2 linked regions of the Homo sapiens genome follow. The protein of the gene in region 1 interacts with the protein of each later gene in a pairwise test. Each region holds a gene or a part of one and is shown on either strand. Other genes may lie near its edges.

Region 1 (3,156 bases):
TGTTTGTTTGTTTGTTTGTTTGTTTGTTTGTTTGTTTTGAGATGGAGTCTCACACTGTCATCCGGGCTGGAGTGCAGTGGCACAATCTTGGCTCACTGCAACCTCCGCCTCCAGGGTTCAAGCGATTCTCCCGCCTCAGCCTCCCGAGTAGCTGGGATTACAGGCACCCACTACCATGCCCGGCTAATTTTTTTGTATTTTTGGTAGAGACAAGGTTTCACTATGTTGGCCAGGCTGGTCTCGAACTCCTGACCTTGTGATCTGCCCTCCTCGGCTTCCCAAAGTGCTAGGATTACAGGCATGAGCCACTGCGCCCAGCCATATACTTGGAAATTTTAAAGCACATTAAAAATCTCATGGATCAAAAAATAAATCATAAAGAAAACTAGAAAATATTTATAACCAAACAAGGAAAATGCAACATTTTAAAACTTGTGAGATTCAGCCAAAGTGGTAATTAAAGAATGTCTAGTCTTAAGTGCTTATTTTAAGAAAAAAAGAAAGTTAGAAAATCAATAAGCTAGGTATTCTATTTAAGAAGTTAGGAAAATAACAATGAGATAGAAGCAAGGAGAACAGTAGATAAATAATAAGTGCAGAAATGCATAAAACATAAATCATTCTCAATCAGGATTAGCTCATAATACTCTCAGAATTAAAAAGTGGAAAGATTATTTCTGGAAAGGGTAAGAGAAGGCCAGTCATATACATACCTATATATATTTTCTATTTTAACTCCTTAAATGAATTTTACAGAAAGAATTAGAGGACCATTGCTTTTTAAATGACATTTATTTTTTCTAATAATTCAAGTACATAACACATTTTCAAAGGGAAATTTGAAAATACTGAACAATGTAAAGAAAAGAGATAGAACTTATAGTCCTATCATTAGGAGATAATTATTAAGTATTAACTTGTGCGTACTTATGCTTTCTTTTTTCAGCCTATAGCATCTGGTCTCCCATCCAAGTAATAACCTGGATCAATCCTGCTTAAGTTTCCAATATTAGGCATTTTCAGGGTGTTGTGACCACAGATGATGTAACTATTAACTTTTAAATATTTTTCTGGTCTTTACATATCTCAAGGTTTATACATGTCTACATGTAATTATATGGTTACTTAATTAAAAATTTGGGCTCAAACTGCATACATATATTTGGTTTTTGAGTTTTTTTTCCTTTTTACTTTGAATTCACGAGGATATAAAACACATATTCAGCTTTTTTTGTATTCAGCTTTTTTTTACTTAAAATTGCATGATTAGCATATACTCTTCAAATATAGAATATTTGGTGGCTGTGTTAAAATTTAATTTTCCTGATAGAGGTATCATGCTGCATTTGGCTGTACCCCTGATGTGTCCAATGCTGTGGTGGAGTCATTCAGCAAACATCTATTAACAGTCCATTCAACGTACGGTGCCATGCTGAATCTAAACAAGAGATAGACAGTCTGAAAGTATATAACAAACTGATGAAGTGGACCTTCCAGAAGTCTGTTTACAAGAGGGCTGAGGAGACTTTGAGAGAATTTTTAACAAGATGGTCCTAGATATGACTAGCTTATGGACTTGATAGAGAAATCCTGGGCTGTCAGAGGGGAGAGGTCACTCTGAGTACAACATGGTGTCTGTAGCTTGGGTTTGCCTCTTGGTCCAAGTCCTTCAGACCTCATATTTAAGTTCTTTGGAAAGTAGAGTGTTATTGAATGAAGCTCTGTAAAACTCTGGAGCCTAAGCATCTTTGTCTTAGCATCCCTCCAACCCAACATCTAGAAAAGGGAGACTTCATTTGGATCGTTTTAGTTGCAATAAACAGAGCTGCACTGATTTAGTCGGGGGTTTACTGAAATGATCAGCACAGTGACAAAGAAGAAAGACTATCTAGGAATCCAAGAACAGAAACCAGGCCTAGGGTACACTGTTCATTGTGGGCAAAGGCAGTTTTAGGAGCTTTTGGAGTAGAAGTTCATGTATCTTCCTTTTAATATGATACCATTATTAACATGAACCAGATACTCTCTGAATGTTGGCTTCCTTCTTCATCCTTTAATCATTTTTTGATGGTAATGGTCCGGTTGCTTCATTCTTGGCTTCCTAGTTCAAATTCTTATGCTTGAATAACCACCAGTCTTGTTTGGACAGTGTTTTACTCCAGGCTAAGTCAGAGGCCATTAGCAAGACAATAGGCTGCCCATGACTCTGGGGCCTGCCCCAGTTCAGTCAGCTGGGCCCAGAGCATGAAGGTCATGCGGTGTATAACATGGCTTGCTTTCAAGATGCTTGTTTCAGCAAAGGCTGTGAACAAGGCTTAAAGGGGGCTGTTGGCACAGCAGGCATCAAGGAGAAAGATATTCTCTTCCGTATCCCCCCAGCCTACTCCCTGGCTTTGGCACAGAGCAGGTGTTGACAGACCATTGTTGACAGTGTCCATGGAGGAGACAAATGGGGAAATGGCAGAAGTGTTGAGGCCCAGTGCACCTGTGATGGAAGCAGTGCTCAGCAGGGTAACTACAGGAAGCAGAAAACCTGGTATGAGCATTCAACACTGAGTGCCTACTGGCTTCACTGTGTGCTGGGTCCTATGCATGGTGGGAAATATATAAGATGTGGCTACTGTCCCCGAGGAAGACATGGCATGTATAGGTGGAAAATTTGTAAGTGTTCTACTTTTTAATTACTTTAAAAATAAATATAGGTACTGGTAACTCCCCCTGACACAGGTATTGACTGGTCAGTGGTCATTTTCTCTTGCCCATTGAGCATGTTCCCTAGCTGCTCACTTATTTTAAGGCTACCTCTTCTAGTCCATCACACTCACCCTCAGGAGTCAGAAAGGAAGAGCAAGAGTTTAGATTGTATAAGTTTATATAAAACTCTTTTTGGCTCATCTATATCACTACTTTCCTCATTGAATGTTGATGGAAGTGTCATTTCATGATGTTTGCAAATAATGTTGAGGAATGTGGAAAGAGCATATGCCTTAAAGTTTGGAAAAATAAAAAAATTTTAATAGTGAAAATATGAGTTTAGAAAATATTTATAGTAAAACATATTCAATAAAGAAATCTTGGAAAATATAGAAAAGTGGGAAGAAGGGTCATCAATGCCCCAAACCAAGCATAATTGGCATTTTGTTATATTTCCTTTTA
Region 2 (3,836 bases), on another chromosome or scaffold:
TATTCAGAAGCCTCAAAAACAAGAATTTGCATCCACTCAAATTTTTCAATTAGAAAATAGCACACGGATTTCAGTTTACAATAAATCCTTTAGAGAGTACAATAAAAAGTACTATCAAGAATATGAAGATATTAGGAATGATTTTACTCAAGATCATGCAAAATAGTTGTAGTCAGAAAAAACTTGATTAATTTTTAATTTTAAGCTAGATGGTCCTGTGTCATTGTGCTCCTTTATGACTGACTAAATTTTGAAAACATAAATGCAGACAAATTTAAGAGGAAATAAATCTCCTAGTAGTGAGTAATATCCTATTCAGAAGCACTGGAAGTTCACATTAATCACAAGAAACTTTTCTACAAAACAGCTCAGGACATAGGTTGAAAAGCAGACTAAAATATAAATTTGATAATATAAATCAGGCCCTTAAAAGAGACAGTAATTTATTGATGTTTGGCTGTCTAAGACCACCATCGTAAGACAAATTATTAAAAGTGAATATTAATACCTCATTTCTTATACTCCTCTTTGAGGATTTTATACCTGAAAATGAAGGTGTTATCCATCACAAATGATCAAAGGGCAATTTTTTTCCTCAGTTCAGAAAGCGGATCTGACTGAGTTGTCCTGGGTAAGAGGCAAGGACCTTCCTCACTGTGCTTAGGGAAATTGAGGCTTCCTTTGCAACATGGATATTCTAATCCGGAATGCTATTTTAACAGTTTGTATACTGCTTCTGAAAAGAAAATTGATAATATAGAATCGTCAACACAGAGTCGTTCATTATTTCAAACAAAATATCACAGCTTTTTAAGTCTTTATTGCTACCGAAGTTATTCAACACATGCACAAAAATGAGGAAGGTTGAGTGGTATCTTATAAAAAATTTTTAAATTTATATTGAAAACACAAACCAATAAGCCACTAGACCAAATGCTACCCAACATGTAAAATTCTATTCTTAACATATTCTCATATTTTGTTCATTTTTATTTTAATGCTTTCTCTCTCTCAAAGGTAAATTTTCTGGCATATACTTATCCCAAGCTAGCAAAGGCCAGAACTCCTGAAGGACTAATTGTATTCATTCATTTTCTTGGCCCAGCGTGAAGCTGGTAGCTTGCTTGGTTCATAGCAACAGGGGAGAAAAGGAGGCGCCCATCTTTATGTCCTTATCCAACAGGAAACCAGGCCAGTGGACAGAATGCAGTGAAATGCCTGTTCAGAAGGTATTCTGCAAGATTAAATGGCAAGAAATTCACAAGGTTAATTTGCACCCAAGTAACTAAGTGTTCCCTCCAAACCTGATCCTCAGCCTTCAAAGGTGGAAGCTTCTGAAGCTACTGTCAGCCACAACACACATGACAACAAGATATTAGTTCAGTGAGCTGATGGTTTAGTTATTACCACTAAAATCACCTAACAGAGAGTAATAAACTACTGAAGACTCTGATACTTTTAATCACTAGTAGTTTACTGACCTTGGTCTTACCCTGAAAATGCCAAATTAGACTGTATAGCCAAATCTGCCTCAAATAGCTCTAATGTTCCTATCATCTAAAAATCAGACAGTTGAGTATTTCTGATAGTTTATTGTGAATATATAAAATAATGAATCAAATAGGTAGAACATATCTTAGTAGCTAACTCTGCTTTTCAAAATTCTATGGAAAACTCACCAAAAAACAGGAATCATACTTCTCTTTTACAAATTTCTAGATTAAAAAGGGGGGAGGGTCAATTCACGTCTCTTATAAACATATAAGCATAAAAACATGGGTTATAAACCTCAATCATACTGCCTTATTTTTAGCCTGGTACTTGCATAAATTCTGATCTAAATTTCAGAGTAACAAAATTACTACCAATACATCTAATAATGTGATACGTTACACTGAGGCTTAAAGTTAATGCCTTTTACTTGAAAAACATTTATGTTTCTAACATACAAAATATTACTTAAAATATTTAAAATTTCAAAAGTAAGGACAATCTAAGTTTTGTGATGAAACTCATTCAAGACCAAGATAAACTTTCAATCTTTACTCACAACAAATTCTTAGATTTAAACCATGCTGATTTCATTTACTTGTCAGTGAAAAGGTCACAGTGCCGGCATACTGGTATACATATGTCAAAATGATGATGGCTCAGATTTTTTTTAAATGGAGCAACTAAATTTTGAAAGAAGAAAAATACTCAAGGGAATATGATTAGGAAAAAAAAAATGTTACTACTTCTCTCTTCTTAGCCACATACATTTGACCTGTACTGCCAGAGGACTTGGGAGTGTTGACCTAGAATTCACATTACTTTCACAACTCCAAGATTACGTGTTAACAAAACTAAAAGGTGTCAATTACCTGCTACTCTAATATGAAATGTTTAATATACAAGTCCCTACAAGAATTGAAAAAGTCCAAAGAAAACATGATTAGGTTAAAGTTTAGTAAATCCTTCATGACTTACACAGATATTTTCCTCTTAAGAGTATAACCTTTTAAATTGATGATACTCAAACCTTAACAGAAGCAAAGCACCAGGTTGAGGACGACTGGTATTCCTAAAAGTGTGTTGGTCATATTTGCTGCTGTATTATTTGACTATTGCATCAATAATGCCAACCAGTAGGAGATATGTTTAATTACCCTAATATCATTTCAGCAAATAGTCAAAATAATCCAAGAAGAACTTAGAATACGCACATGATGTTTAAAAGTATATTCTTATTAGAAGCACCAAACTGCTTATGGCATACTTCAGATGAAGAGGCATGTTCTTAGTATTATGACTCTCTTTATAAGCATAGCTACTAAAGGAGAATGTAAATAAACTTTTATTACTGGAAGTCTTTTTAACTTTATTTAAAAGCTTTTTACATTCTTAAAGAAATTAAGGACAAATAGTTATATTCTTCTTGATGTGGATTTTCATTACTCAAAGTTACTTGGTGACATTCCAGTTTAGAATTCAGAATAATATTAAAAGGATGATTTGATTATTTACACTTTTAGGTAAAACTTATACAAGTTTTCAAATTTTGGAAATATAGAAGATCTATTTAGGCAAATGTTATCATATATTTCTATTCAAACTGATAGTTCTGAGTGGCTATTTCACAAATTTGTGCCAATTCAACACATAAAAAAATCAGTTTGGTCCCCTATCCAATAAATACTACCAACTAAAAGTTATCAGCATTTGAAAACTCAGTATCCACTTCTCAGAAGTGAATACCTGGGTACATAGATTGTAACAGTAAAACTATTCTGACAGCAAATAAATTTAATATTTTTTCCCGTGAAACTACATCTATAGATGCTCATTTATCAATGGAGAGGCAGTAATGAAACTCCATGTAGAAGATAAACTCCTACCAGATACACAAGTGACACAAGTTACACAGTAAGATACTGTACTTAATCCCTGTGATCAAGATACATTTAATTCTGATTTTACCTAAACATAATTTCAAATTGAATCTGTTAGTATAAGCTAAAGTAGATTTACTTCGTTTAGACACAGTGTACATTATCATCAGTTTAACGTGCCCACTGAACATATTATATTCTGAGGGAAAAATAAAAAAAATTATTTAAGTTGCAATTAAAGTCCTCTATTCTTTTTTCAAAAGATTGAAGTCTTACTAGTTTAGCAAAATTTTAACAGATAGGTTCTATATAAAGACACAAAGCATGGCTAGCTTACTTTATGAAATAACATACAGGAAAAGGAATTGCACAACAGTGAATTTATAAAATTTACTAAACCCGTGGAAATTTTCTGAAATATTTTCTTACTATTGTTTGTGGAAAACTGTTAGTTTTTATTTTTAA

Evidence for each region.
Region 2: the proteins of TM4SF18 (region 1) and EFNA5 interact in binary tests that used the Homo sapiens proteins (3 or more experiments, as listed by UniProt).

The regions. Positions count from the first base shown.
Region 1 is NC_000003.12:149,317,725-149,320,880, forward strand, and holds the end of TM4SF18 (transmembrane 4 L6 family member 18), read right to left. Parts: 3' UTR 774-3,156; downstream 1-773.
Region 2 is NC_000005.10:107,664,102-107,667,937, forward strand, and holds part of EFNA5 (ephrin-A5 isoform 1 precursor), read right to left. Parts: intron 1-3,836. UniProt on the Homo sapiens protein: Cell surface GPI-bound ligand for Eph receptors, a family of receptor tyrosine kinases which are crucial for migration, repulsion and adhesion during neuronal, vascular and epithelial development.